Linked DNA regions of Homo sapiens: regions 2 and 3 are each linked to region 1. The links come from fine-mapping of genetic effects on gene expression. A gene starts in region 1. Each other region holds a variant in brackets. All regions are shown on one strand. Distances are between the middles of the regions.

The links. PIP is the estimated chance that this variant, and not a neighbour inherited with it, causes the effect.
Region 2: its variant is fine-mapped to the expression of MKLN1-AS in thyroid (GTEx, PIP 0.97).
Region 3: its variant is fine-mapped to the expression of MKLN1-AS in substantia nigra (GTEx, PIP above 0.99).

The regions. Positions count from the first base shown.
Region 1 is chr7:131,321,466-131,332,342 of GRCh38, forward strand. It overlaps MKLN1-AS (MKLN1 antisense RNA), which reads right to left and starts at 6,314. Exons shown (of 6, transcript NR_125364.1): 1 at 6,150-6,314; 2 at 5,341-5,470; 3 at 2,838-2,960; 4 at 1,900-2,403. It overlaps MKLN1 (muskelin 1), which reads left to right and starts at 6,411. Exons shown (of 18, transcript NM_013255.5): 1 at 6,411-6,532. The coding sequence starts at 6,435. RefSeq lists enhancers at 6,176-6,752, 6,447-6,746, 6,753-7,329 and a silencer at 6,237-6,396.
Region 2 is chr7:131,279,758-131,290,634 of GRCh38, forward strand. It overlaps a transcript of MKLN1 not described here. Among named protein-coding and RNA genes, the nearest start is that of MKLN1-AS, 43 kb to the right of the region's middle. The variant C/T (reference allele first, on the strand shown) is at 5,255.
Region 3 is chr7:131,293,142-131,304,018 of GRCh38, forward strand. It overlaps a transcript of MKLN1 not described here. Among named protein-coding and RNA genes, the nearest start is that of MKLN1-AS, 29 kb to the right of the region's middle. The variant G/A (reference allele first, on the strand shown) is at 5,918.

The DNA of each region.
Region 1 (10,877 bases):
TGCACGTGGGGCTTAAAACCTAGATGACAGTTGGTAAGTGTAGCACACCACCATGGCACAAGTATATCTATGTAACAAACCTGTACATTCTGCACATGTATCGCAGAATTTAAAGTAAAATTTAAAAAAAATAAAAACTTTTCAAATCTCTCATTATCAAGTATTAGCCAGCACAAATAGCTGTTATTCCTGGCTTTTGAACTTTAAAAAACAAACAAACAAACAAAAAACAAAGGTACCCTTCCAAATGACTCACCAAAACCAATAAGCCTTTATCAAGGTTATGACTTAACCAAGGATGCATGGGGCATCTCCAAAGGAGGTGCAACACAGTCCTCACAAGATCAAGAATCATCCCAAAGACAGCTCAAAGAAAGGGAAGTTTCACTAGCCACAAGTAAAGTACAACTCACATTTCTATCTGATCTCAGCTTCTCAGCTGGTTACTCATGAAGGCCCAAATGGTCTGTATGTCCCACAAATGGAAAAAGACAGGAAATCAAAAGTTGTCCATGGAAGAGATAAGGATCAATAACAATTGGTATCCCAAAAGGTTAAGAATCATACAATACTTTAAAACAAATGAGATTAGCTCCCTGGCTAGGAATTGAACTCAGGCTACAGTGGTGAAAGCACCAAATCCTAGCCATTATACCACTGGATGGGGTGTTTTCTTTGTTTTTGTTTTCATTTTTTTGTTTGTGTGTTTGTTTTTTGGTAAATTTTGCAGGGAATCCAAAGCAGGCAGTTTAAGCATTTAAGGATTTTATCTTGTCTTAGATCTGATCTCATCTGGAATGCTGCTTAGCTAATTCCCTGAATGTTAGCATTTTAAAGACATGATAAGATTTAAAGGGTACTGTCTCACAGTGGGTCAATAAATCAGTGTGTATTAGTTCATTCTCACACTGCTATAAAGAACTACCTGAGACCGGATAATTTATAAATAAAATTGGTTTAATTGACTCACAGTTCTACATGGCTGGGGAGGCCTCAGGAAACTTAAAATCAGGGTGGAAGGTGAAGGAGAAGCAAGCACCTTCTTCACAAGGCAGTAGGAGAGAGAAAGCCAGAAAGGGAACTGCCAAACACTTTTTTTTTTTTTTTTTTTTTTTTGAGACGGAGTCTCGCTCTGTCGCCCAGGCCGGACTGCGGACTGCAGTGGCGCAATCTCGGCTCACTGCAAGCTCCGCTTCCCGGGTTCACGCCATTCTCCTGCCTCAGCCTCCCGAGTAGCTGGGACTACAGGCGCCCGCCACCGCGCCCGGCTAATTTTTTGTATTTTTAGTAGAGACGGGGTTTCACCTTGTTAGCCAGGATGGTCTCGATCTCCTGACCTCATGATCCACCCGCCTCGGCCTCCCAAAGTGCTGGGATTACAGGCGTGAGCCACCGCGCCCGGCCACTGCCAAACACTTTTAAACCATCACATCTCGTAAGAACTCCCTCCCTATCATGAAAACAGCATGGGGGAAACTGCCTCCATGATCCAATCATCTCCCACCAGGCTTCTCCCCCGACACGTGGGGATTACAATTCGAGATGACATTTTGTTGGGAACACAGAGCCAGACCATATCACAGTGTCATTCACTAGACCTGGTGAGAAAAAATTTTGTTGGATCTGCATTTTTATAGTCTCAGCAGTCTTATTCCCATTCTGTTGTTGTTCTGCTTGTTCCTTCTGCTCTAAATTTAAATTCATTTCCCCTGAGAGAAGGAAATGTGTACATTGTGAAATTTTAAAACATCTCTGCCTAAGAGATGTATGGAAGCCAAGAGAAGCGGCAGAAAGGGATGAGTTCAGATCACAGGGCTGGAAGGAAAAGGAGGGTCTGGAGGTGAAAGGGAGAAAGCCTCTGAAGTCTTTTAACATAGTTTCAAATATCCCTTTGTTTACCTCTTGAATGAAGGTGACTTTTTCTTTCAGGATTTCTTTTAGAAGTTTTTAGGTGCCAGTGGAAGTCAGTCTCTTATTTACATGTCTGGTTCTAAAACCAGCTCTTTCCAATGGTGTGCACAAATAAATTACTTTAGGTATATCAAAAGATCCCCATTTTTGGTCATTGTTGCCTATGATCATTCCAGGTTAGATGGGTCTACTTTCCCAGATACTACAAGACAGTACCCCATAAATCATATATGTAGTTCCAGCAGGTATTTCTAAAAAGAGTGTTCAGGTTTTGAACACTCTTATTATTGATTTCTCATAACTCAGGAACTTTTCAAAAGTGACCAAAGCCAGGAATGTGTTTAGGATCAAAGTGTGGCATGTTTTGGACTGTCTCTAATTGTCAGATGGCAGCAGAGTCCTCAAGGATGAGGACAATTGGATTGTCTGTAATTGTCAGATGGCAGCGGAGTCCTCAAGGTATGGGGGACCAGACCCTCGTATTACGTCCACCTGGAAGAGCAAAAGGGGTACACATTTCAGTTAGGAACTAACAGGAATTAGTTAAAATTAAAGACTAATTCAGAATTTTCAAGTGATAGTAAACAACTGCTATCTCAAACACATACGATATAAAATGAAACCACTGGTGCCTAACTGCCAGTTCTTTCACTCAAACCTCTGCTGTGAGACAGAGGTGAAAAAAACTTGACCCAAACCCCTGGTTCTGAGGCAGAGGCAGAAAAACCATGACCTGCACCTCTGCTGTAAGACAGAGAGGGAAAAAAGGCAGTTCCCTGCAGAGCTCTATACCCGAATCTTCTGTCCAAAGACAGAGACCGAAGCCCTCACACTTAAAGAAAGGGTTTGAAAAACAGCCCAAATAAAGTCTAGACCTTCAACCCAAGAGTAGGAGGTCCAAATTCCGGAGAACTCATCTGAAACACCTGATGAGACTTCTGAAGGAAGAGAGTTCACACTGGTACCAAGCGCTGCTTTCAGAGAGAAACACCACCAGCTGGTTGGGGGGAGTCACTGTGAATCCTGCTGACTTACTCCAGATGTTTTACCTAAAAGGAAGAAGCGGAGGCAAAATTAATATAAGTTGGGAGTTTATTTGGGCCAAGCTTGATGACTGCAACCTGGGAACATAGATTCAGGTTGCCTTGAATATACACTCTGAGTAGCAGCAGTTACAAGTGGATTTTTAAAGGGAAAGATGAGGCAGTGCCTGAGTTATTTACCAAGAATTTACATTAAAATAAATCAAGCTACTGATTGGCTATACATTATGAAACTATAGGATGAGGGTTATAATGTCTGGTGCAGCATTAATTAGTAGGTTAATGTTTAGCTTCTGTGGCAATAGTAAGCAGTTTCAAGAGACAAATACACAGTTCAAAAGTGGGGGAGAAGGACAGGATTGCTGTTTCACTTTAATGCCTCTCTGGGCCTCATAATTTAAAAGGATTTGCATTCCTCAGATAAAGTTCTTTTCTTAACATTTAAACAAATTTTCGTCTTGGTATCATAATATAGCTGTCTGTATGTTAACATAGGAATGCTTTAAATTATTTTACCATTTATAAAATTTGTGATGCAGGAAAGCCATGCTATCCTGGGTCTTTACCTTCTGAGTAGCAATTATACCTCAGGGATACACGTTTGTAGTCTGAGAAGTGCTGGCATTTTTTTTTTCCTTTGCAACTCAGAAGTCTCTAATTAAAGTTCTCTTTTAGCATTATTCATTCACTCTTTGATAAATATTTACTGAACATCTTTATTTGCTAGACACATCAACAGGACTGAGGATACAACTGTGAACAAGATATGTATGACTCTTATCTTCATGGGAGCTATCATTTAGAGAGAAAGAAAGGGGAAAAAAGAGAAAATTAAAATATATTGTGATGTGTGCTAAGATAAAGAGGGAAACTTAGAGTGCTAAGAGAAATGTAAAAAATGTTACCTATCCTGTGTTAGCTTGCATAGGAAAAAAAAAATGAAGAAAACTGTCACCTAATCCCAGAGCAGGTGTTGAAGAAAGATTTTCGGCCAGACGCAGTGGCTCATACCTGTAATCCCAGCACTTTGGGAGGCCAGGCCGAGGCAGGAGGATCGCTTGAGCCCAGGAGTTCAAGACCAGCCTGGGCAACAGAGTGAAACCCTGTGTCTACAAAAAAATTTAAAAAGTAGCTTGGTGTGGTGATGTCTGCCTGTGGTCCCACCTACATGGGAGGCTGAGGCAGCATGATCCTTTAAACCCAGGAGGTCAAGGCTGCAGTGAGTCATGTTCATGTGACTGCACTCCATCCTGGGTGACAGAGTCAGAGTGAGATTCTGTCTCAAAAAAAAAAAACCAAAAAAATTTCCAGGACCAAACAGTCTACAGGATGAGCTGGAGTTAGCCAGGTAAAGAATGGGAAAGAATATTCCATGCCTGGCTTAGAGCAAGCTCCGGAGGCTAGAGAGAACAAGGACTCTATGGGAACAAATTCAGTGTGCTAGTTAGTGGGCAGATGTCAAAAGCGCAAAGGAGAAAAGTGGGGGGGGGGTGGTGGTGAGGAAGCTGGAGAGAAAAATCAAGGCAGGTTATGAAGGGCCTCTGTTAAACAGTTTAGAAGGGTATTGAAAGTCACCAAAAGGATTTAAGCTTAAGAAGAACTAATTAACATGTGTTTTTAAAAAAGATTGCTCAGGAACTATGTCTGGAAAAGAACAAGGACTTGACTTACATTAAGGTAAGAAGTGGAATTATAAAATCTGGGGCCCAAAGGAATTGGAGTGAGTTAATTCCTCCCCTTTAAAGTGTCTATTTTCTTCAAAGATAACCACTATATCATCTCTGGGGCTAACATTCTCTGGCCCTTTCCCACTGTCTCTGGCAGCTCCCGACCCAAGTCACTACAGTTACAGCATTCCCTTAAGGAACACATGCTTTTCCAACCTGCTGCAACACAGAAAGCACATGTAATTTTTTATTTTATTGTATTTTATTTGTTTTTCTGAGACAGAATTTCACTCTGTTGCCCAGGCTGGAGTGCAGTGGTGTGATCTTGGCTCACTGCAACCTCTGCCTCCTGGGTTCAAGTGATTCTTGTGCCTCGGCCTCCCAAGTAGCTGAGATTATAGGTGTATGTCACCACACGCAGCTAACTTTTGTATTTTTAGTAGAGACGGGGTTTCACCATGTTGGCCACGCTGGTTTCGAACTCCTGACCTCAGGTGATCCACCCACCTCAGCCTCCCAACGTGCTGGGATTACAGGTGTGAGCCACCGTGCCGGGCCTGGCCTTTCTATCTGGCTTTTTTGATTTGATATCCTAGTAGAGCCCACTATTAAAATTTCCATCTATAGAAACAGGAAGTCAGGAAAGGACTGGAGGGAATTTCGGCAGGTTAATGATTACAACGGGAAGAGAATACAATTATTGAGGTGTTTTGACTCACTTGGTCATTTCCTGAGAAACTCTTTGCTTGAATTTTTCCACTCTTCAGGTGAAGATGATGACACTGTCCAGGCTTTCAGGAGTCCAACCTCTTAGACAATAAGCGACATACTCTTTGGTAACTGCAGTGGCTAAGCCAAGGAATAAATATGCATAACTACAACAAACAGGTACTTGATGAGAACGTTATCTAGAGCTGCCAGATAATTTAGACCAAGTGCACCTTTTGTTGTAAGAAGCTGGTATGATGTCCACATAGTTTTCAGGGCTGCTGTTCCCTCTAAGAAGAAGGAATAGTCTTTTTCCTGAACTACTCTCTCTCTGAACTTTTAGGCTACAATTATGTCAGTTCAAAGTGGGCAGATTTGCCAACTGAAAAAATGATGACACGCAGCTTCCCAACTCTGTAAGGACTTTTCAGGTCTGTGGGTGAACGTCATTCCCGAGCAAACCAATGCCACAAGATTAGTAGGATGCGGCTCACAAGAAATGTTTACAATGAAGGGCATCACAGACTGCAAACCAAACAGGGTAGGAGGACACGGGACCATTTCCTTTTCCTGTCTCCATCTGACTCTGGAAGGCGGGGACAAGACATTTAAAACCAGGACCACTCCAGGAGGACAGCACATTAGCTACTGCCCTCCAGCTCCCTTCAGTGTTGTTTCCGTAAAGGACTTATAAACTGGCGAGGGCGGTGGCTTCCAAAAGCGCACAGGCGTCCCTTTTCCAACTTGGTCTTCTTATTTTCCCTTCCTGCTCCATAACTACAACGTGTTTCTGTTCGTAATCATCTCGGCTTTTCCTTACCTCTGCTTGTAAGAAAAGTCCTTTGCGCCATTCCCCTCCAAGCCCCAGGGAAGGGCCTGGAAAGCGCTTACACCTCAGACCCAGTGTCGGTCAGCCGTCAAGGAGCGAGCGACGTGGGAAACCCTGAGATAGGACATTGGCCCGGCGCTGGGCTCGGGTAACGATGCGGGGCGGGGAGCGCGGGCGGCCGGGGAGGGCGGCGGCCCCTTTAAGAGCAGGCCACGCCCCCTCCCCTCCTCCCGTTCGCTGCCAGCGGTCGGTGGCGGCCGCTACGGTGCTGACAAGATGGCGGCTGGCGGAGCTGTCGCTGCGGCGCCCGAGTGCCGGCTTCTCCCCTACGCGCTACACAAGTGGAGCTCCTTTTCCTCCACCTACCTTCCCGAGTAAGTGCCGGGCCTTGAGCTCGTGCTGCCCCACCCTTCCGCGTCAGCACGGTTGGGCCAGGGGTGCAATGGAGGGCAGCCGAGCCGAGAGGCCCAGGCGGGGCCTGCTGAGGGGGACGTGCGGCCTCCGGAGTCTTAGTTCAGCTGCTGAGAGCGTTGCTCGGCCTCGCTCGGGAAGGGGTTAGGGTCCGGAGAGCGAGCCCAGGGAGAAGGGGCGAGGTGTGTGGCGGATCCGGGGCGCGCACAGGAGAACCGGAAGCCCAGCGGTTCTGCGCTTGGGATTTGGGGGTTGAGGTTGAGGAGGGCTTGGGGGGCGGACGGCTCTGGGGCAGGAATCGGAGTTGGCGGGGCCCTGCCCGCGGGCAAACTACCCCGAATGTCTGAGGTCGTCCGAGGTGGTCGGCGTCGGGGGACAGTTCAGTCGATTGCTGCCGGGACAAAGTGTAAAGCCGAGGAGTGTCTATTCCAGAGTGGGGTCATTAAAAGTGATTAGCTCTAGAGTAGTGTTAAAAGTCACGGAAGGCTGAAAAGTTGTGGAATCCATCTGAATCCTAGCAGGCGGGGAGAACTTGTAGGATTGGCAGACGTTGTCTTTAATGCCTGGAAGTTCTGAAAAAGATAGGGAGTGGGAAGGAGGGACGTTACCGAAGAATTTCAGTATTACGGCTCATTAGAAGATGGGTTTGTATGGACACAGACACGTTTCCCAGTCCGGAAACTCAAACATAGAAACATCTGGCTTTAATGAATTTGATTTTCAACACCGGCTTTGTCTTGATCCCTGATTTAGGTGTTAAAAAAATTCAGTTGCATTGTTAGGTTTTTGTTGGTGGTGTTTTTTTCTCTAGCAAATTCCTTCTGAAATGCTGAAAATACTCTTACATAGTATCTTATTTATCTTTGGCTTATCTTTGAAAGGAGGAGCAGATCTAACTCCAATTTTACATGCTAGTGGAGGAACTGGCTTAGTAAAGGGTTAAGATCTGTGCAGATCCTGAAGAAAAGTGCTAGTTGTCCCTCTAACCATCTCACAGGACCGAAACGATTTTATGAACGAAACAAATTAATGAATAATATATTTTACTGAGTATTTTACTAAACAAAAAAGTGACTAGATCTGTGAAGCATACTCAAGTAAGTTTTCCATCTGTATTTGAGAAATTCTTCACATTTATCCAAATTTGATTTCACTGGTTATATCAATGAAGAATCTCAAAATGGAGCTGCAACTGGAAGAATCTGTCATGACTGCCAGCCTCCCATTTTATTCACCAGGTCAAGGGTTGGCATTCAGTAGGATCTGGCCCAATGAAGGGTGCCAAGTGACCTGTGGTTTGATCTGGCCTGCGTAGCCTATTCATGGCCATATCCCTGATTGATGCTGAAACCCAACTTTGAATTTGAGAGTGAGCCAGATAAACAGTCCAGCCATGTAGTTGGAGTTGAAATGTGGCCCTATGTACTTGACCTCTGATATTCTGGGCTATCTTGTTCTTGGATCTGAAGTTATTCAGCTTTTTTCTATACCCAGGCTAGGATTATGGACAGTTGGGAATTGGTGTGGCATTGTTTGATCTAACTGTAGAGACATTTTTCTGGTCTTGAATTAGCGTATTTCCAGGACGTCACTCCTTAAATTTTTGATGTAGGCCTGAGGCTTGGATAACACAAGTACCATCCGCGTTATCTGTTGTATAGACATTTTAAGAAAGTACATTTCAAGCAGGAAATGATTTAGTGGGATGGCAACTTTAATCTTTTGTGTCTTGTTACTCTGGCCCCTGGTTTGCAGTGGGCAGAACACTAGTTTTGGAGTTAGAAAGCAACAATTTGAGATTGGAGAAATACATTGCTGCAATTTTCTCAAGTACATACATAAAATAGTATTTAATACATACGTAACTTTCATACACTTCCACTTACTATATCTTGTTTAATCCTTATGACATTCTATTGACAAATGCAGTATAATTTGTATTTAAAGTAAAGTATTAGAAGAGTAATCTAAGCTTTTTTCTTTGAAGGAGTATAGTTGAGTATTATGGAGCTGGAGTTGGAGAATATTGTGTCTGCTGGGTTGGTGTGTGCCATGCCTAAATTATAAAACTCTTGGCTCTGAACTTCTATAAGCAAGCAAGGATATTACTTCTCTGTGTGACAGAAGATGTAGGAAAGGGGTTGACTTTACTTACCTTTGCCCTAAAATCCCCTCTAGCAGCAATTGTTGTATCTTTACTGGCAGTGGAAACCATATTAAGGTACTTCTTAAACAGGTCTCATTTTAGGTTAAAGACATTTGTTGAAATTGTCCACAAAGTGGCAAATATTTGTTGGCATAGATCTAAGCATTTCGAGGTGGCAGTAATAAATCAGTAACAAAAATGGTAAACATTTATGATGTGCCGTCCATTTGCTAGGCTCTCTTATGAACATTTTTAAGTGTATCAACTCATTTAATCCTTACCGCAATCCCAAGAGGAATCTCCGTTTGCCAGATGTTGGAAGCAGGTAGGGAGAAGTTTAAACTTGCCTAAGGTCACACAGCTAGATGGAACCAGAATTTGAATCAAGGTAGTCAGGCTCCACAGTCTGTGGTCTTTAACTATAGTGTTTTACTGCTTCTGCACAAAGGTATATATAGTACAGGAAATCAGAACTTTAAAAGAGCTCTTGTATTAAAGGCACTTACATTTTAGTTGTGTAAAGAAATGTGAAGTCATTAAAAAAAATTGAACAATTTTATCTCTATTTTCTTTCTAAGGACTTAGAATTCTTTTCCCCTTCTTCCAGAGGCAGAAAAAACAAATATTTCCCCTTTCAACTCTTTTTAATTTATTTGGACTTTAAAAATGTTAAAGCAGATTCAGTTATAGGGAACACATTTTTACTTTGAGACTAAAAAAAGGCCTTTTATTTTTGTGTGCTTAGAGATTGCCTGTATTTTACTTTTTTTCTGAAATTTACACCTAATTTAATAATTAAATACACTTATTTAAATAATTCATAAAATTACATATACTCTTATACATAAAAATATTTTGTAAACTGCTAATCCCTGTACTCAAATGTTTATTTTTGTATCTAATAATGATGCTAGTTACAATTTAGTGAGCACCTAATATATGCAAGATGCTTTTTGTATACAGTTTTGTTTAATTCTTGGTACATACCTGTAAGATAGGTATTTTATATATGTTTTGTGGAGGATGAAACTGAGGTCCATACAGGGTAAGTAGCTTGCCCAGGGTCATATAGTTTTCCAGAGGCTTGCCAGGTTTTCTGACTTAAAAACTATTGCATTGTGACTTTAATAACAGTCACCACTTATTGAGTACTTTCTATTCTTCAGGCACTGTACTGAGCATTTAGCATGTGTTCTTTGATATAATAGTCTTCACAAAAACCCTATGAGATAAATATTATTATTCTATTTTAGAGCTAGGAAAAGTGAGATTTAGGGAGGTAAGTTAACTTGCCCAGGTCTAAGAGTTGAAAATGTAAGAGGGGCAGGGCAGGGTGGCTCACACCTGTAATCCCTGCACTTTGGGAGGCCAAGGCAGGAGGATCACTTGTGCCCAGGAGTTTGAGACCAGCATGGGCAACACAATGAGACCCCATCTGCAATAATAATAATGATGAGGAGGAAGAAAATGTAGGTGATAAGGTTCTCATATTGGGCCTTTTGACTTCTGTTACGAAAGCTGTTCATTATTATACATGGCTATTGTATATGTCTAATTGAGATTACAGATAAGCGCTCTAAGGTTAGAACAGCAAGAGAGGGAAAAATAGATTTTATCTTGATGTTTAAGATTTTAGTATACTCATATGAGAACTGGGAGAAACTTTGAAAGTATTTTTTACATATTAGGTAATTTCATTGGTATAGAATGATTCTTATCTTGTTTACATATTATTGAATGACTTAGATAATTTAGATGATAAAATCTGATAGATTTTTAAGTGTGTTTACCTTTTTCCTGTTAGTCTTATTACTTAAAATCAAATAGTACTTAAAATAGTACCTTGTGTCAACATGTGATTGATTCATGGTTCAGAGTACAAGTGTTATGATTTGACAACTAGAATAGAAGGTGAATTTATTTCAACTCTTTTCAAAACTAATTTTAAAATTTCACATTTAAAAATGAATATAGGCTAGGCACGGTGGCTCATGCCTGTAATCCTAGCACTTTGGGAGGCTGAGGCAGGACCATCACTTGAGACCAGGAGTTTGAGACCAGCCTGGGAAACATACCCCATCTCTACAAAAGAAAAAAAATATATAAATATTTATATATTTTTATTACATAAAATATATGTGCATAGTTATATATTATTATGT
Region 2 (10,877 bases), 42 kb before region 1:
GATTGCACCTCTGCATTCCAGCCTAGGTGACAGAGCAAGACCCTGTCTCAAAAATAATAATAACAAAAATAAAGTATATAGTTCAATGGTTTTTTTACTGTATTAATACTATTGTGCAACCATCACAACTATCTAATTTTACAGCCTTTTCAACATCCCCCAAAAGACCCCTATACCCATCAGCAGCCATTCCTTGTTCCCATTCCCCACCCTCAAGCCCACTCCAACCCCAGGCAACCACTAATCTACTTGCTGTCTCTATGGATTTGCCTATTCTGGACATTTGGTATAAATGGATTCATACAATATATAGTCTTTTGAGACAGGGTTCCTTCACTTGTTTTCCAGGTTCATCCATGTTGTAGCATCTATCATCAGTAATTATTACTTTTTTCTGGCTGAAAAGATTCCATTGTATGGCTATACCACATTTTGTTTACCCATTCCTCAGTTCATGGACATGGATTGTTTTCACGTTAGGCCACTATAAATAATGCTGCTATGAGCATTCACGTACAGGTTTCCATGTGGACATACGTTTTCATTTCTCTTGGTATATATATGGCTAGGAGTAGAATTCCTGAGTAATTTGGTAACCGTATGTTCAGCATTTTGAGGAACTGCCAAACTGTTTTCCAAAGTGGTGCCACCATTTCACATGCTCACAAGCAATAGATGAGGGTTCCAGTTTCTCCAGATCCTTACCAACACTTGTTCTTGTTATTATAGCCATCCTTGTGGTGTGAAGAGATGTCTCACTGTGATTTTGACTTGCATTTCCTGAATGACGAATAATGTTAAGTATCTTTTCATGTGCATAATGGCCATTGGTATATATTCTGTGGCAGAATGTTTATTTAAATTATTCATCCATGTTTTTTTTTTCTTTTAATTTTTTTTTTCTTTTTTGGGAAAGAGTCTCACCCTGTCACCCAGGCTGGAGTGCAGTGGCACAATCTTGGCTCACAGCAACCTCCACCTTCCGGGTTAATGCAATTCTTGTGCCTCAGCCTCCAGAGTAGCTGGGATTATGGGCTAACACCACCACACCCAGCTAATTTTTTGTATTTTTAGTAGAGACAGGGTTTCACTATGTTGACCAGGCTGTCTTTGTCCATGTTTTAATTGAGTCATTTGTCTTTTTATTCTTGAGTAGTAGTAGGGTTTTAAAAATATTCTGGATATGAGTCCCTTGTCAGATACATGATTTGCAAAGATTTTTTCCTGTCCTGTGGACTGTCTTTTCACTTTCTTGATGGTGTTACTTGAAGAACAAAAGATTTTACTTTTGAAGTTCAATTTATCTATTTTTTTCTTTTGTTACTTCTGCTTTGGCGACATCCAAGAAACTATTGCCAAATCCAAGGTCATGAACATTTACTCTTGTTTTCTGATAGGAGTTTTATAGTTTTAATTCATGCATTTAGGCCTATGATCCATTTTGAGTTATTCTTTTTTTTTTTTGTATAGTGTTGAGAGTTCAACTTCATTTTTTTACAGGTATCCAGTTGTCCCAGCAACATTTGTTGAAAAAACGGTTCTTTCCCTATCGAATTGTCTTGGCACTCTTCAGAAATTCAATTCAATACCAATGTGAGGGTTTATTTTTAGTCTCTCAAGTCTATTCCATTCATCTATATGTGTATCCTTATGCCTTATGTCGTGATTACTGTAGTTTTCTGGTAGGTTTTGAAATCAGGAACTATGCCTCTTCCAACTTTGTTCTTCCTCTTCAAGATTGTTTTGGCTATTTTGGGTTGTATTTCCATGTGAATAGCATGATCAGCTTGTCAATTTCTGTAAAATAAAAAAAAAGTTGGGATTTTGATGGAGATTGCATTGGATTTCATTTTTCAGGATTATTCATTGCTAGTGTATAGAAATACAATTGATTTTTGTTTATTGATCTTGTATCCTGCCATATTTCTTTTCTTTTTTTTTTTGTTTACAGTCTTGCTCTGTCACCCAGGGTGGAGCGCAGTGGCATGATCATAGCTCACTGCAACCTCCAACTTGTGAGCTCAGCAATCATCCCATCTCAGTCTTGTGAGTGGCTAGGACTACACATGCACACTCAGCTAATTTCTAAATTTTTTGCAAAGATGGGGGTCTCACTATGTTGCCCAGGCTGGCCTTGAACTCCTGGCCTCAAGCGTCCTCCCACCTCAGCCTCCCAGAGTGCTGGGATTACAGCCACCATGCCCAGCCACTGCCACATTTCTGAGCCTGTTTTATCTTATACTCTTATCATGGTGCTTTACTGCTTACTCTGTGGGAGGCATCATGTTAGACACTAGAAATAAAAAGATGGGCTGGGCATGGTGGCTCATGCCTGTAATCCCAGCACTTTGGGAGGCCAAGGCGGGTGGATTACCTGAGTTTGGGAGTTTGAGACCAGCCTGACCAACATGGAGAAACTTCATCTCTACTAAAAATACAAAATTAGCTGGGCATGGTGGCGCATGCCTGTAATCCCAGCTACTTGGGAGGCTGAGGCAGGAGAATCGCTTGAACCCGGGAGGCGGAGGTTGTGGTGAGCCGAGATAGTGCCATTGCACTCCAGCCTGGGCAACAAGAGTGAAACTCCGTCTCAAAAAAAAAAAAAAAAAAAAGAAAGATGAAGAAAACATGGTCTTTGTCCTGAAGAAGCTTATAGCCTAATTCAAAAAGTAAGACATAAACTTATTGATTAAACAGTAGCCCTTGACAGCAACATACAGGGAAGTACATAATTGCCAAATGAATGTTACCAGATGATTAGAGATCTAGCAAGTTCAGGGGATGAGGAGGGACGTGGAGGCTATAGAGGTCTAGGAGAAATAGAGGAGGAGGGATCTGAGCTGGGTTCGAAGGCTCACCTCCTTCCCTTCCTTCTTTCTCCCCTTCCTTCTTTAATTTTCTTATTTCCTTTTCTCCCTTTTCTCTTCCTACCCATCTTCTTTGAAAACATTAATAGAATATAACCATGGTTGGTTATCATTTCTCAAACCTGGCGATCATCAGAATCTCTTGGCAAGCCTTTTAAATATACAGATTCCAGAGTCTCATGTCAGACCTATTGTATCATATTCTCAGATGGTGGGGCATGGACAACTGCATTAAAAGTTTTATCTGATTTTCAGCCAGGTTTGGAAATTTCTGGATATGACTATAGTCATGATTTCCACACGTGGACCAATCCTCATCTTCATTCCACTGCAGCTCTGACTCTGTTTAGGATGCTCACAAGGCCAGCAGGTCACACGGGCACCTAGTAAGGGAGGGGAATTGGGCCTGTGCAACAGCTCCTCCGTTCATGAACAGCATCTCAATCTGCATACGTTACTGAGAGGGCTCTTCAGTGTCATTTATGTTTATGGGGATGGCTCATTATACAGATCAAACTTTTATTTTCTGTAACTGAGAATCTAAGAATCTCAAAAGATCCTTCCGCTGTCGATGGCCATGACCCTCAGAGTTACCTGTGGGATATGGACTCATTATCCAGATTTAATAAATAATAACGGCTTGCCATGATAAAACCTTCTAGTTACAAGAGAAGGCCCTTCCCTCCCTCCCTCCCTCCCTCCCTCCTTCCCTTCCCTTCCCCTCCTTCCTTCCTTCCTTCCTTCCTTCCTTCCTTCCTTCCTTCCTTCCTTCCTTCCTCTCTCTCTCTTTACTGCTTTCTTTCTTCTCTTTTTTTTTTTTTTTGAGACAGCATCTCACTCTGTTGCCCAAAACAGGCTGGAGTACACTGGTGCACTCACAGCTCACTGCAGCCTTGACCTCCTGGGCTCAGGTGATCCTCCCACCTCAGCCTCCCGAGTAGCTGGGACTACAGGCATGCACCACCACAGCTGGCTAATTTTTGTATTTTTTGTAGAAACAGGGTTTCATGATGTTGCTCAGGCTGGTCTAGAACTCCTGGGCTGAAGCTGTCTGCGCATCTTGGCCTCCCAAAAATGCTGGGATAACAGGCGTGTGCCATTGTGCCCGGCCGAGAAGGCCCTTTCATTTCAACTCTCTCCAGAGGTAACCAATCTGTTGAAGACTGTGAGTGTCCTTCCCACATGTTTTTATAGTTTTACTACACAATAGGCAAGTTTTGCATGTTTAAACCTGTATGTAAATAGTGTACATATTTTTTTCTGTAGCTTTTTTTCTCAACATTGTGATTTGGAGATTTATCTGTGGTACTTGTAGAGCTAATCCATTCTATATAACATAACATTATATTATATAATACTGCAATGTAGTGCTCCATTGTGTAAATGTTCTAGAATCTATTCTCCTGTGGGTGGATATTTGTTATGGCCAGTTTTTTGCTATTCCAAATCATGATGTAAATCATGCCCTGGTGTACGTCTCCTTGAACACATGTGTGAGAGTTCTAGGGAATATATCTAGAACAAAAATTGCTAGGGAATAGGATATGCGCACTTCCGACTTGACTAGATTGCCTTCCAGCTTACTGTCCACAGCAGCTGAACCAATTGTTATATATCTCATCAATGATATACAAGAATTTGTCTTGTCCCACATTCTAACCAACGCTGTCAAGTTTTTTAAAAATACACATATCTAAGCCCTATTTTCATAGATTCTGATAGGTTCACTCTGGAGTGTGGTTTGAAATAGGCTACAGGTGGTTCTAAAACACAAATAAAGTTAAGTCTGCTCCAAGTATGCATGTGTATATGATCTAATATATTGATATGTGGATTGTCACGCTGAGGTTACTCTGGTGCTCTGTTGGTAGCATCTATGTTGGCTGGATTTAGATGTTTGAGGAAAGGGTGGGGAAGTACCACTGTCCAACATACAGATACACTTTGAATAAAAAAGCGGTCTGTGATTTACCAGTGCACTGGGCTGTAGTTGATCTAAAGCCCTACCTTTGCCAGCTACGTGAATAGGGTGGGCCCTTTCTAAGTGCTGCCTTCCCTCTCACCAGGTGTGTGGCTGGGTATCAGCTGTCAGGGCTTGCATACGTGCGGTCGCTTAGGGCAAGGTGCCTGTCAGCTATGTCTGCCAGCCCGCTGGGTGGTGTCACTGTGTGGAGCATTTGTGGCTTTTTCAAAGCCCTGAGGAATCTGAGAAGCAAGTGAGGGGAATGATGCATGAAAACAAAAGGCAGTGGAAAGAGTGACCAGCCAGCAGGCTCCAGCAGGCTAGAACGCTCTGTCCTTGTTATTACTGCTTCAGGAAAATGCTGCCAGCTTCCTGGCAGGGCCTGGAAGGTAGAGGCTTCTTGAGAAAACAAGGATAAGTGATG[C/T]GTACTCTGAGGCTGAGATTCCGGTTCCCCAGCCTCCCCGCTTTTCCAGCAGAAGCTGCAGGGTGAGGATGGGGAACCGTTTGCTCCTTGGTGGGTTTGGCCAGTCTTTCATTCTCTCCTGGCTGCTGTCCTAAGAGTTTTTTCTCCTTTCTTCCACTCATAAGCAGCACGGCTCTGGTCTCAGAGGCCTAGCAGGGCTGGCCTGGGAGGGAAGCTGGGCGGTGCCCTAGGCAGAGTTGTTCCCTGAGGAGTGATGTGAAGGTCAGCCTAGGGGAGGAAAAAGGGCCTCAGCCATAATTCCCATTCAAGGAGTGTTTGCCAAAGATGAACCTCCTGGTGTGGGGCAATGAGACACGGGATGCGCTCATACCTTGTCCACTTTCCCCCTGGTACTGCATTCACAGGATAGCCTAACCCAATTTTCCGAAATGAGGTAGAAGCTCAGCAAAGGTAAGCGTTTCCATGTTAACTTATTATCAGATGGATGTGAGGACCTGTCGTAATTGGACTTGCCGAAAGTCAACTTCTATTTTCCCTCCTGACAATCACCTTTCTTTGGCATATAAAATACATGGATGCAAATTAGGGAAGAAGTCAGCATTCTTTTCTTCTCTTAAAAAGTAGCGATGAGGATAAAGAATAAAAATAGGCCTCTGTAGATACAATAGGGCTGAGCTGAGGGTGTGGTTTGCTTGGCAACAGCTCAGGCAAAGCTGTTTCTCTTGGTCCTGGAATGCCCTTGACTTCACCTCTGCCTGATGCAGTCTTAAGAGACCAGCTTGATTGTGAGTTTTTTTGGTGAAACTCCCATCAATAGTTAGTCATTCCCTTTTTTCTGGCCCCATAGCATTTTGCTCTTATAAAAACCATTCATCATATTGCGTGACAATTACTGACTTGGGATCATGCCTTATTCTCTGCGTGTGTTTCCTCAGCATCTATGGACTTTTTTTTTTTTTTTTGAGACACAGTTTCACTCTGTCGCCCAGGCTGGAGTGCAGTGGCGCCGTCTCACTGCAACCTTCGTCTCCCGGGTTCAAGCGATTCTCGTGCCTCCACCTCCCAAGGAGCTGGGATTACAGGCATGCGTTATCACGCCGGACTAATTTTGTATTTTTAGTAGAGACAGGGTTTCACCATGTTGGCCAGGCTGGTCTCGAACTCCTGATCTCAAGTGATCTGTCTGCCTTGGCCTCTCAAAGTGCTGGGATTACAGGTGTGAGCCACTGCGCCTGGCCAATGGACTATATTTTAACATAGTAGTTCTTTGATAAATGTTTATTGAATGAATCAAAGTTCCTAAGAAGATATCAGTCCTCAGCTCTTATATTTTCTTAATTATCCCCTGCCTTTTCCTTTGTGGGGTGATCTGCAAGCAGTTTCATCTGCACGTGGAATGGAGGACATGCTAAAAGTAAATGTAGCTTTGTTTTTTTTTCCTCCCCCAAGGAATTGCCTCAGTAGGAATGGGTGTTTCAGATATATCATTCTGTTACAGGTACAAAAAATTGTTTCCAGGAAGCACTGCCATCATTATCTCTGAGAGGCAAGTCAGTAGAAATTGTTATTTTCCATTTACAGATGGACAAATGGAAGGTTTCTTTCTCATTTACCAATTACAGAATGTCCACTCTGTTTAAAGTACTGTGCTAAGATTTTTATGGGCTACAAAGATGTACAAGACAAGGTTCTTGTTTCGAATAAGAATGTCATAATCTTATTTGGATAAAACAATATTTATATAACAAAAGAACTACAACTCAGGAGCATATAGTTTGAGGCATATGAGTGGTCCCAAAAGGAGCCCCAATGGGCCAGGCACGGTGGCTCACACCTGTAATCCCAGCACTTTGGAAGGCCAAGATGGGTGGATGGCTTGAGGCCAGGAGTTTGAGACCAGCCTGGGAAACATAACAAGGCCCCATATATACTTTTAAAAAAATTAGCTGGAAGTAGTGGTGCACACCTGTGGCCCAGCTTCTTGGGAGGCTGAGATGGGAGGATCGATTGAGCCCTAAAGATTGAGGCTGCAGTGAGCCACAATCGTGCCATTGCACTCCAATCTGGGTAACAGAGTGAAATGAAACCCTGTCTCAAAACAAAACAAAAAGTACCAAAGGGAATATAAAAGGCAGGCAAAAGAATGTCCAGCTAAAGTGATCAGGTATATCCTCCTGTCCCATCTGAGATGAACAGGTTTTGTGCTGGTTATTCTCCATCTGGCTCCTGTCCTGGTTTTCTGTGACTGCCGTAACAAATTACTACAAACTGGATAGGTTAAAACAACAGAATTTTATTTTCTCACAGTTCCGGAGGACAGAAGTCTGAAATCAAGTGTTGGCAAGGCCACACTCCTGAAAGCTCTGGGGGAGAATCTTCTCCTTGCTTCTTCCAGCGTCTGGGGGCCCCAGGCCTTCCTTGGCTTGTGGCCACTCCTCTGAGGTCACATTGCCTCCTCCTTTTATCTCTTAAAGTTTCTGCTTCTCTCTTATAAGGATACATGTGATTGCATTTAGGGCCTACCACAGTGATCTAGGATAAGGTCCTCCTCTCAGGATAAGGTCCTCCTGAACTTAATCACATATTTTGCCATGTAATGTAATATTCCCAGGTTCCAGAGATTCGGCTGTGGGCATGTTTTGTTGGCGGGGGAGGGGGAGGAGAATATCATTCAACCCATTATAGCCCTGATATGGTTAGGCTTTGTGTCCCCACCCAAATCTCATCTTGAATTTTAATCCCCATAATCCCCACATGTTTAGGGAAAGACCAGTGGGAGGTGATTGGATCATGGGGGAGGTTCCCCCCATGCTGTTCTCGTGATAGTGAGTGAGTTCTCATGAGATCTGATGGTTTTATAAGGGGCTCTTCCCCCTTTGCTTCTTACTTTTCTCTCTCCTGACGCCATGTGAAGAAGGTCCTTGTTTCCCCTTTGCCTTCTGCCATGATTGTAAGTTTCCTGAGGCCTCCCCAGCCATGTGGAACGGTGAGTCAATTAAACCTCTTTCCTTTATAAATTGCCCAGGTTCCAGTAGTATCTTTAAATTATAGCAGTGTGACAGTGGATTAATACAAGCCCCATGTCCTTCTCTGCCACACTCTGTTCCCGACAAGGATGTTACCCCACAGATTTCGTCCCCTGGGAGCCAGTGCCCTCTGGCTTACTGTTGGGTTTGTCCAATGGCAGGCATCAGCAAGTATCAGAGGGTAGGAGGCAAAAGAGGTTGAGATATTTCTTCTCCTTTCCTCCCTGCTTTAGCGCCATGGGTTTGGCATTAGGTATGCCCCTTCACAGTTCTAGCTCTTTCTGGACTCTGATAAACTGTTTCTCTTCAGGCCTGGACTTCTACTGCTACTCGACCTTGGGTGCCTCAGTATCCGCTTAAGTTCCCACCACCCTCCCTACATCCTTGTAAATATCAATTTCATCAAATGATTTTCAAAATCCCAGCGCAATGTGCCTTCAGTTTTGTGCCATGATCTTGAGTGATAGAGATTCCAAGAAGCAAAAATTTAATTTTCAGAACGGAGAGATATACTCAGGTTACCTCAGTCTAAGCTTAAGACTAATACAAGCCCCATGTCCTTCTCTGCCACACTCTGGCAACGAGGAGTGGGAAGGTGATTCAGCACACAGTGCCGCCCTAGCAACTGGGTTATCTTGTGGGCCCTTCAGTAGTCAGTATCTGTTGCTTTGCACTCTAATTATCTGCTAGTATTGTGACTCTCCACTGCCCTTGCTGTTCAGTACTTTCTATTCTTTTCTCATCTCACAGCTTCTATTGCTGCATGCTTTTTGCTGCCACATGACCTCAGCTTTCTTCCTTCTCTCTGTGTATCTTTTAGTTTCTGCCCATTTCTAACTGCTGACTCTCTCTTTGTATTTCATATTCAACTCAACAAAAGAATCTGCCTAGTTTGGCTGTTCACCATCAAGTGCAGGTGGTTAGGCAGAGCCTTCTTTTAAAAAAAAAAATTATTTTTTTAAAGTAGAAGTAAATGGGGGTCTCACTGTGTTGCCCAGGCTAGTCTTGAACTCCTGGGCTCAGGCAATCCTTCCACCTCAGCCTCCCAAAGTGCTGGTATTACAGGCATGTCCATCATGCCCGGCTATCAAAGCCTTCTTGACAAACCATCTCATGAGCATAGGTCTGATGCCCTAGATCAGGTGTCCCCACCCCTGGCCTAAATGGCTTTGTTTGGAATGGCAGAATAAATTGTTACGTAATTTGGTGTCCTGTCTATTAGAAACCTAGAAGGGGGTTTATGGGTGTGGCAGACATGATGACACTTGCAGGAAGTGGGGAAGGATGGTTATTAAAACCTACAAGTAGCCAGGTGTGGTGGCTCACGCCTGTGGTCCCAGCACTTTGGGAGACCAAGGCGGGAGGATCCCTTGAGGCCAGGAGTTTGAGACCAGCCTGGCCAACATAGCGAGACCTCATCTCTACAAAAAATGAAAAAACAACCCCAACCGCAAATCCTTACCAATGGACTTTAATAAGCTACAGGATCTAGTACCCACTTGTTTCTTATCTCTTACTACCAGGAAGCAGCACAGCATACTTTAGTGTTTAACAGCATGCATCACTAGAGACAGACCACCTGAGTTCCAATCCTAGCTCTATCACTTGATTGCTGTGTCATTTGGGGGCAGTTATTTAACTTTCCTGTACCTCAGTTTCCTCATCTGGAAAAGGTAAAATCAGTATCTACTTCATAGACTTGCTGGGAGAATTAGTTAATATCTTTCATGTGCTTCAAATAATGCTACTAGTAAGGGCTATTTAAGTGTTTGTTAGGTAAATAAAATATTTCCCCCCATTCACTACATTCCAGCCACATTGGCCTCATTGCTGCACCTCCAGCAGGCCAAGCACACTTCTGACCAAGGGCCTTTTTGTTTGTTGTTCTTCTAGGGGAACACATGACCAATTTCCTTACCTCTTTCTATTCTTTGCCCAAATATTGTCTTTTAAATGATGACAATGCTATTTAAAATTGCAATTCTTGGCCAGGTGCGGTGGGTTGCACCTGTAATTCCAGCACTTTGGGAGGCCAAGGCAGGTGGATTACTTGAGGTCAGGAGTTCAAGACCAGCCTGACCAACATGGTGAAACCTCATCTCTACTAAAAATACAAAATTAGCCAGATATGGTGGCAGGTGCCTGTAATCCCAGCTACTTGGGAGGCTGAGGCAGGAGACTCTCTTGAATCCGGGAGGTAGAGGTTGCAGTGAGCCGAGATCGCACCATTGCACTCCAAGCCTGGGCAACAAGAGTGAAATTCCGTCTCAAACAGTAAATAAATAAAAATGAAATTGCAATCCTCTGTACAACCCTGCTTTATTTTTCTCATTATCACTTACCTACTTCTAATACTCTATGTAAATTTGCAAATTTGTTTTTCACCTATCTCTCCCAACTAAAGGGTAAGCAAGGGCAGGGCTGTTGTTTCATTCTCTGATGTATCCCAGGTGCCTAGAACATTGCATGGAACATAATGGGCACTCATGCTCTTTGTGGAATGAATTAACAAGCTGTATTCAGGTAAACAAACTTGGAATCTATTTTGAAGATTGATTTCTAAATGAGCTTCCTATGGTGCATGTGCAATGCCAAAG
Region 3 (10,877 bases), 28 kb before region 1:
GCCTTTTCCATGAGAACATGCCAGGGCTAGCTTGCTAAGTGTGAGAGGCTAATGGAACTGAGCCCAGCCATCCCAGCTGAGATCATCCCAGACTGACCAGCTCCTAGTCAACTTACCAAATGACTTGGATGAATGAATCAGTCCAGCCAAAATCAGCTGAGCCCAGTCCAGAGCAGCAGAACTACCTAGCCAATGGTTCTTAATATTATGCCACTGAATTTTGGGATAGTTTGTTATGCAGTAATAGCTAATGGTTATAGTCATCTATGTTGTAATTTTTGCATTAGTTTAAATGCAAACTGATCATGAGGAAACAATCAGAAAAATGTATAGTGAGAGACATTCTGCAAAACAACTGGACTAGATGCTACAAAAGAGTAAGTGCCTGGCAGGGCACCGTGGCTCACACCTATGTCCAACACTTTGGAAGACTGAGGTGGAAGGATCACCTGAGGCCAGGAATTCCAGACCAGCCTGGGCAACATGGTGAGACCATCTCTACAAAAAATAAAAAATTAGCTGGGTGTAGTGGTGTGCACCTGTAGTACCAGCTACTCCAGAGGCTGAAGCAAGAGGATCACTTGAGACCAGGAGTTTGAGGCTGCAGTGAACTATGATCACGCCACTGCTCTCTAGCCTGGGCAATAGAGTGAGACCCTGTCTCTAAGTTCATTAATTAATAATAATAAAAGTCAGTGTCATGAAAAGCAAATAAAGTAGGGAAATGGTTCTTGATAGTCTAGAACAGGGTTTTTCAATTTAGGTATTAAATGACATTTGGGACTAGGTCATTCTTTGTTGTAGGGGGCTGTCCTGTGAATTCAGGCTCTTTAGCAGGCATCCCTGGTCTCTAGATACTAGATACCAGTAGCACACCCAGTCATGACAATCAAAAATGTCTCCAAGCGTTGCTAAAAGTCTGTCTTGGGGCACTGGACTAGAGAAACGGAATCAAATGCAATGTATGGACCTTGTTAATATCTTGGATCAAAGGCTATGTAAAAGACATTTGGTACGAATGAAGAAATCTGAATCTGAACTTAAAGATGTTATTATTGAATCACTGTTAATTTTCCCAGGCCTGAAAATGGAACTGTAGTAATGGAGGAAAATGCCCTTATTCTTAGGAGATGTATGCTGAATTATTTTAAGTGAATAACTGTAAAGTATTCAACTTACTTTCTAATGCTTCAACGGTTAAAAATGTATATTTACAGAAAGAGATAAAGCAAAAGTGAAAAAAGTGTTAATAATTGGTGAATCTAGGTGAAGCATATAGGCACATTCCTTGTACTATTCTTCCATCTTTGTGGGTCTGAAAATTTTCAAAATAAAAAATTGGGGAAAGAACGAGTTTATTGCATCTCTACTGCCTGGCTCTTCATTAATCTAACGTGATAGAAGGAGGAGGCTTGTTTTAAATGAATCTGAGTGCTCATTTTGTGTTGCCTGGGAAATGAGCTAGCTCAAACCAGGTGTGGAGAGCTAGGGCTGAGGAAGGGGGCTTCTCTCAGCCTGAGAAACTGTACACAAGCTCATCTTCCCAAGGGACCACTGTCTTCCTTTCCCTTGTGTAACATTCCACAGGAACCAAAGTCTAGATGCTGGGCAGCTTGTGTGCGTTTCCCAGATATCTCTGGTAAACAGCTGACAATAAATTCCAGGCTGCCTGGTGCCAAGATAATCTGATTATTCCTTTCATGATAAGGCTGCTCTCACACTTGCTACATACAAAAAAGAGACCCAAAGAAGGACAGAGTTCCCTTCCTTGGAACGCAAACCATCTCGTGAGGCTAGCAGGTCACCCAGAGGACGACGGGAGGATGGGGTCCTTGTGCCTTCCCTTCTCTTAATGACTTTCCCTTTGTAAGTTTTCTCTTTCCACAGAAAAACCTAATTTCTTAACCTCTACCGTGTGACAGGGGAATTCAAATCAAGCTCTGGTGCATTAAAATGGCAACTGCAAAGAGACCTATTTTGCAAGAGAGCTAAGGTTTATTTTTTTTAATTTTAATTTTTGCTCTTATTTTTATTTTATTTTATTTTGTAAAGACAGAGTGTCACTATGTTGCCCAGGCTGGTCTCAAACTCCTGGGCTCAAGCAATCCTCCCACCTTGGTCTCTCAAAGTGCTGGGATTATGGGCATGAGCCACCATGCCCAGCCAAGAGCTAACATTTAAAACACAGGCAGAACTCAGAAACCAAAAAGATAAATGCTGATAAACACATTGTGTAAAACATTTAAAACCTTTATATGGTAAGAATAAAAATGACAACAACAACAAGAACACACCATGAATAGAGCCAAAGACAAATGACACAGTAGAAAAAGTTGCAATCCAACAGAAAAAGTGCTTATTTCTTTATTTTACTAAAAGATCTTACAGTTTTATGAGGGAAAAAAGAAAAAAAAAGGCATAAAGAATAGGAACAAATATTTCATACAAATAGAGTGGCAAAAAGCCAGGTGTGGTAGTTCACGCCTATAATCCCAACACTTTGGGGCCAAGGTGGGAAGATCACTTGAGCTTAGGAGTCTGATACCAGCCTGGGCAACACAGCAAGACCTCGTCTCTACTAAAAATAAAATAAATTAACTGGACATGGTGTTACTTGCCTGTAGTGCCAGCTTCAAGGGAGGCTGAGGCAGGAGAACTGCTTGAGCTTGGGAGATGGAGGCTGCAGTGAGTAATGATTCCACTACTGCACTCCAGCCTGGGTAACAGAGCAACGTCCTATCCAAAAAAAAAAAAAAAGGAAAAAACACTTGAAAAAATACTTAGCTTCATTAGTGCTTAGAAAAATGCAGGTCACAACAGTGTGATACCATTTTTACCTATGAGTGACAAAAATTTTTAAATTCAATAAAACTTAGTTTTGGCAAAGTTACAGTGAAACTTACACTGTCGATGAATATAAAGGAACAACTTTTTTGGCGGTTACAATTTAGGAACATTAACCCAATCTTAAATGTACATATATTTTGATCCAGCAATTTCATTGAAAGGAATTTATCCTACAGAGAGTCATACAAGTCCCCAATGACATGTGTATAAGGATATTGATGGAAATGTTGTTTATAATAATAGTGTAAGTAGAAATGATTTAAAGTTCATCAGTTAGGCAACAAATAAATTTATGGCCCATCCAATGATTAAAACATCTACATGTGCTATTATGGAAATATTTCTGCTATATTACTAAATGAACAAAGCAAGGTATAGGATGATATATATTATTTGCTCTGTGTAAAAATGGAGTCTATTTTATATATCTTAATATAGAAAAAATACACCAGAAATAATTAACAGTGCTTGCCTTGTGATAAGAGTGGGAACGAGATTTTTCCCTTCCATTTTAAATCAGTTTGAAGTTTCAATTTACAGTTGCCCCTTGAAGAACATGGGTTTGAATTGCATGGGTCCACTTGTATCTGGATTTTTTAAAACCAAACTCAGATAAAAAAATACAGTAGTTGGCTCACACCTGTAATCCTAATTACTCGGGAAGCTAAAGTGTGAGGATTGCTTGATGCCAGGAGTTTGAGACCGGCATAAGCAACATAGCAAGACCCCATCTCTTTATTTTCATTTTTATGTATTTATTTATTTTGAGATGAAGTCTCACTCTGTCACCCAGGCTGGAGTGTAGTAGCATGATTTCAGCTCACTGCAGCCTCAACCTCCCAGGATCAAGCGATCCTTCCACCTCAGCCTCCCAAGAAGCTGGGACCACAGATGGGTGCCACCATGCCCAGCTAATGTTTTTGTATTTTTGGTAGAGATGGAGTTTCACTGTGTTGCCCAGGCTGATCTGGAACTCATGGACTCAAGTCATCCACCTGCCTCAGCCTCCCAAAGTGCTGGGATTACAGGCATGAGCCACTGCACCTGGCCAAGACCTCATCTCTTAAAAAGATATATATACAGGCTGGGCGTGGTGGCTCACGCCTGTAATCCCAGCACTTTGGGAGGCCAAGGAGGGCAGATCACGAGGAGATTGAGAACAGGAGATTGAGAACAGCCTAGCTAACACGGTGAAACCCTGTCTCTACTAAAAATATAAAAAATTAGCCACGTGTGGTGGCGTGCGCCTGTAGTTCCCGCTACTTGGGAGGCTGAGGCAGGAGAATCGCTTGAACCCGGGAGGTGGAAGTTGCAGTGAGCCGAGATAGCGCCACTGCACTCCAGTCTGGTGACAGAGCGAGACTCCGTCTCAAAAAACAAAATATATATATATATGTGTGTGTGTATATATATACACAAATACTCTGTGTGTGTGTGTGTACATACACACACACACACAGACAGTATTTGCAGATACAAAGCCCAAATATCTTGAGGGCTGACTTTTTGTATCTGCCCGTTCTGTACGGACAACTGCAGGCCTTGAGTATGTGTAGATTTTAGTATATATAGGGGCCTTAGAACCACTCCCCCGAAGTCTACTGAGGGATGATACAATTTTTATTATGGTCATGTATTACTTTTACAATGGAAAAAAATGCACAGATTGTGCCTTGGAACAACTTTCAAAATGTCAATCAGTGCTCCTTATGATACTTTTGAAATAGGACAAGGTTGTGTGCAGGGTAAATTGTTTTTAGCTGGAGATGCGAATATGCAAATGGTACTCATCCATTGCAACTAGAAGTGTGAATTTTAGAACCTAGGAAGATTTGATCAGAGCAGTTACCAAGTTCATCCTTGAAGCAGCTCAGGTTCAGCCTTTAGCCAGACTCCTATTGGAAAGCCCAGCAAGGGAAAAATAATGTAATAGGAAATTTTCTTTCTCCTTCTCTTTCTTTGCCTCTTTGTGGAATTTCTTCAGGAACATGCAAGTTAAGATATACACATGACGGCCGGGCGCGGTGGCTCACGCCTGTAATCTCACCACTTTGGGAGGCTGAGGCGGATGGATCACGAGGTCAGGAGATCGAGACCACGGTGAAACCCCGTCTCTACTAAAAATACAAAAAATTAGCCGGGCGCGGTGGCAGGCGCCTGTAGTCCCAGATACTCGGGAGGCTGAGGCAGAAGAATGGCGTGAACCCAGGAGGTGGAGCTTGCAGTGAGCCGAGATGACGCCACTGCACTCCAGCCTGGGCGACAGAGCAAGACTCGGTCTCAGAAAAAAAAAAAAGATATGCACATGACTCAGAGGTACTGAGATATGAAAAAAATTTGCCAAGGTGCTTGGATGATTCTTCCTCTTTACAAATGCATCATATTTGTGCCTGGCTGGTCCTCTTTAAAGCACCCAAGGTATTAATCTGAGAGGACAGCCTCTATCTGGGGAACATTTTTTTGTTCTCAGTGAAGTGGCACATTCAGTTCCTGGTGCAGGCTCACTCAATTTCCATTAGTCATTTCACAGCTGTATCTTGGGAAGAGAAAATTTCAAATACTTTTGGCTGATTTCACAAGTAAACAAAAAACAAGGCCTTCCCTCTTTTCTCACAGATCTTGTTTGTTTACAGTTTTCAAGTCAATAAAACACGCCTGTCTTTGTAGATGTTTCTCCTAAGTGTGTTAGTTGTCTGCTGACCTATCTGCCTGGCTTCCACTCTACTCTTGTACCTAGATTTGTTGCCCTCATGTTGCAGGTGAATGCTGGACTACCCACTCTAGTTTGTTATTAAATCGATGGAGCAATTTTTGTTTGGTAGTTTAGTATTCTAAGGCTGTTCATGGACACCATTTAGAAACGAGGGTCAACTATCAAGCGAAATACTGAATCTGATCATAGGTTTGTTATTTTTTCAGTTGTTTAAGGGCATCAGATTAGCACTTTGGGAGGCCGAGGTAGGAGGAGCGCTTCATGCCAGGAGTTTGAGACCAGCTTGGGCAACAACAGCGAGATTCTGTCTCTATTGTTTATAAAATTAAAACTTTTGAAAGAGGATATTAGATGAGT[G/A]CACAAATTTGTTATTATGGGGTCACTATGAATACTGAAGATGCACACACAGGGATCATTATTGTAGGGTGGTTTGTGACAGCTGGCCCTGTTTTAGTTATTTCCTCAAGAAGACACTTGAACAATTATTGCAATGCCTCCTCTCTGTAATTACAATAATAATCATGATGATTTTGCAACTGAATATTCAATTCAGGGTGTATACACTCAACTACTGTTTTTAGCTTGTTTCTCTTTTTACATTGATGTCAGCTGCTGTTGTCAGAATTGAACAGAGAACCATTTTTCTGGTGAAGGTCAATGAACTACATGAAAAAAGGAATCTGGGGCCAATACAGGAAATTATAAGAAAAATAATTACAGTTAGGATTTAAGGAGTGCTAACTATGAGCTAGATTTTTTTCTCCTTGGAGAGAGAAATATAATATTTTCAGCACTTACCTGCTTTTAAAACTAATAGAATATCTCATTTAACCCTTTTCCCATTTAGAAAAAAAGTGTAGCTCGCCGCCAGCACTCATTTAATTTTACATAAACATGCTCTTTGAGGCTGAAGCAAATCTGACTGATTTTCAATGTGAAAATAAAATATAAAAACTGTTCTTAGAGTTAATTCTAAACAGAACTAACATCAGAATCATCTGAATCATCAGAATTGTCTATTTCAGAGAAATGGGATTCATCAAATGAATCTTTGGCCAACTGTTCGTTAACGATGTTAACGTCGCACATAGGAATGCTATGTTTTCTAGGATTTGACATTTTCAGCAATCGAGAATTACTGTATTTTGTAAATGGAAATACCACCTCTAAAAATAGAATGCTATAAACAGAATGATGTCTTTTGTTTCCAAAGTCAATATACTAGAGCGATGTGAAAATAATAATAAAAGCAAGATATTTTGTGGCAAAGTTATCTCGGGGTAAACTCTGCAGCCACAAGCGCTGCTGGTGAGTATTCTTGGGGCAAACGAGAAAAGGGTTAATAATTATAACTATCTGACAATGCTTTTGCTTCATATTATAGTCAATTAAGGAGCTGGGAGTGGGAAAGATGATGAAGCAGAGAAGAGAGGTGTGTAATTGTGGGTAAGGGGGAGAGAATAGAGACTAAAGGAAAATAAGACACAGAAGGAATAGTGAGGTGCAGAGGCTAAGAAAGAAATACAAGAAATAGGTGCAATAAGAATGACAATGACGAGGTTGGAGAGCAGGTGAAGGAGATGGCAGGCAGGAAGGGAGAGGAAGGGGAAGAGAAAAATGGCTGGAGAGTGGGGAGAGAGACAAGTTTGGAGGGTGGGAAAAAAAAGCATTTGTGTTTGTTTTTAAGATCAATGTGGGGCTGGGGGTGGTGGCTTATGCCTGTAATCCCAGCACTTTTGGAGGCCGAGGCAGGTGGATCACTTGAGGCCAGGAGTTCAAGACCAGCCTGGCCAAGATGGCAAAACACTGTCTCTAGTTAAAAAAAAAAAAAAAATCGCCAGGTGTGGTGGGGCACACCTGTAATAATCCCAGCTACTCCAGAGGCTAAGGCAGGAGAATCGCTTGAACTCCAGAGAAAGAGATTGCAGTGAGTTGAGATCACGCCACTGCACTCCAGTGTGAGGTGACACAGTGAGACCCTGTCTCAAAAAAAAAAAAACAACCAAAAAGAAAAAAAAAGAATGTGGAATCTCTAGAGCGTGGCATTCATACCACCATCACCTGTTGCTGGTTCTCTCTTTGAAATACTGATTAGCCACTGTTCATAACTCTGTAGGTATTCAAATCATTTTAATTGTAGACCTGATGGATACGGTGGGAAGGCAGAAATGGAAATCTTACAAGGTGGATGTTTATGCTGGCTGCCATTGCAGTATTTGGTTTCTTCATGCTGGCTTTTCGGGAGAAATTCCAAAGGGAGGAGGTGAGCTCAGCTGTCAGTTACTAGCAGCTTCCTGCCTTTTCTTATCCTAAGACTTAACGTGAGAAAGTCTCAATCTTGGCTGTACATAGACATCTTTTGAGGAACGTACAAAAATGTTGATACCTATGGTAGATAAAAGAAAAGTTGATCCCTAGGCCCCACCCCTAATATGTAATTGGTTTGGGATGTGGGGTGAGGATTTTTAAAAGTTCCCCATGTGAAGCCAAGGGAGAGAACTGCTGCTCAGAGGCTTCACTATAAATATGTTCACCAGAGAATCCCATTATAACACTGATTATTTTGGGGGCTATGACATCAGTGAACTAAACATTCAGTTGGATGAAACTCAGCCAAAGGCCAGAGGTTCTCGACCTTTGTGCTATACATGTAGTAACTGGCATAGCTGTGAATTGCATGTGGAGCTGTGGGAAGAAAGAGATCCTCTTGAGGCTTATTTGGAACTCTGCAGGAAGAAAAGAAGTCATCAACATAAGAAAGGTCTCTATTAAAAAATTATGTTCGAGAAATACTGAACTTGATTTTAACATTATGAGGGCATCTAGTGTCTCTTGGAAGGCAAACGTCAATTGTCCTTTTCAGACTAATCTGAAATCAGTCCAGGGAACCTGGAGAAATGGTTTGCTTCTTTTCTGCTTGTTTGTTATGGTCTATAGCTCAGTTCATTCCTTGTCACGTAGGACAGCCCTGTGTTTTCTTGCCCTCTGACCTGCTCTCCAAACTTCCAGAATATGGTTCTTTTCAGGAGTGAAGTTATCTAGGATTTGCTATCACCAGGCTCTCCTACCTCTGTCATTCCCCAGTTCTCTCTATTGCAGTAACACTGAAACTTATTTAACCTGCCCATCACCTGTGCTGATATTTTCAAGGGGAAGAGGTGGAGATAGAAGCTATCCCACCAGCCCCATCCTTTGATGCCAGGTAACATGTGCAATATTTCCATTTAGAGTGGCCTTCCGGAACCAAAACTCCCAATCTGGGAAGGGATTCTGATATGACAACTTTCATGTGAAATAGGAAAAGTTTAATTGACAATGCCACAGGGGCCAATACCTGTAGGAGGATGGGATTCTTTCTAGATGATTGTGCTACAGGGATAGCGTTCATTAGGAAGTGTGGTATTTGGCCTGTGGCCTTATGGAGATAATACTATTTCTATCGCCTCTATTATATTTTACATTCCAACCCTTTCTGAATGCTCCATGTATATTAATTCATTTAGCATCTGACTACTCCATTGTGAGCTCCTCAATAACCAGGTGTACGCCCAGCCCCTGACTCATGGGAGGTGACCTATAGATGTTCACTAAATAAATGGATGAAAGTTTAACCAATCCAAGTGGAAGCAGGGGGAAAATGAAAGGAACTACTTCCGTCTCCTTCACAAAGACCAGGCTGACGATCTGACTTGTGGTGATGGGAGAAAAGTGTGGAAGATCTTGACTTAACATTTCTACCTGGAGCGCTGGGGTACTCTTTTTCTGAGCCAATTTCACTCTTCCCAAAAGGCTGTTTGGTTCCAAATACACTAGGCATCAGTGTTAATTGCTTTTCTGAAATATCATTTTGTCAGCTTCGTTTAGATGTGGTAATTTGCAAAGCAACCCCCAGCAGTTGACAGTTCATCCATAGCTGAGTGGTGTTCAGACATTTCCTGGGATTCCTGCCCGCCTTCTATGCAGCTGGCAGTGTTTGCCAAACCAGGATATGTGCTCAACCGGGATTAACTTGGAACCAGTAGTGCTTTGTTGTGTCTGAGATTTTTTAAAATTCTGAAAGGGTGAAGGCCAACCATTAGTCCAGAAAATAAAAGTGCAGTAACTTATAATTTAAGAATTAGCAGGTGCTTCAAGATGACCTAGTCCACACTGGGTGGATGAGGAAATTATGGTTTGACAGGTTCAATGAGAAGGTCAGCTGGCTGGTCGCTGAGAGGCCAGGTCTACAATCTGTATCGTTTGTGTGGTACCAAACTGTGCGCTGGGGTCTCTAGATTTATGCTTGTGTGGATGTGTTTCAGCTACTGTTTCTTTCTGAAGCTCTTTTTCCCTGGCCAGAGACTTCCTGAACCTCCTTCATACATGTTTCAAGGTCACAGCCCAGACCAAAGTGTTTACAAAAAAAACTAAGCACTTATAAAGAGGAATTATTGCCAGCTCCTGAACTCCCAATGCCCCAGCTCCAACTAAGCTCTGCAAACCAAGGAAGGGATGAAGTGGTCTTTGGAACCAGGAGTTTCTTGGTTTGGATGCCAATAGGAAAACGGATGAATTCTGTCTGATTTCTGCAGCAGGCGGAGGCTGCAGCTGCTGTTGCTGCCACCTCCTGGGAGAAGACAGACCTTAGCTTCATACCTGAAGCCAGCCTCAGTGTTCACCTGTGTCTTGGGCAAAGGGCCCATTGGGGCAGGACTGAAATTACTTTCTCCTGGAAAATAAAAGGGATATCCCCTTACTCAACAAACAGAACCCTGGTATTCTTTGCTTTTTGTTTGTTCGTTTTGGCAAGGTTATGCTTGAAGAAATAATCTCAAACAATGACAAAGTTGTAATGAGTTAATACCGGAACCATGAGAGAGCAGAAATAAGATTGAGGCAGAACCATTTGTTTTAGGAAAGTATCAGAGATTCCATCTCTTGGACTTCTGAATCCTGGGGTGATGTTAGGAATGCACGCACTTGAGAATTGTATGATATAAAGGATGCATGAATTTGGTGAGTCTCAACCTCTAAGAGTCTCAGTTTACTTGTGGGGCTGTTATGAAAATTAATTGAGATAATGCATGTAACTTCCTCATATGAGAAGTGTTCAATGTGAATTATTTTGAGGCAAGTTCACTCTTATATCCCCATTGTGATTTTCTATATTTACGGACCAAAAAAACTGGCCAACAGCCCCATGCCTTTAATTCTTTCTAGTCTTCTGATTTATAGATGATCCCTAAGCAAACTCCTTTTATTTATTTAAACATAATAATACACTAGTGAGAAGAAATTCAGGAGGAACTAGGAGATTCAATTTAAAAAATATTTCTTG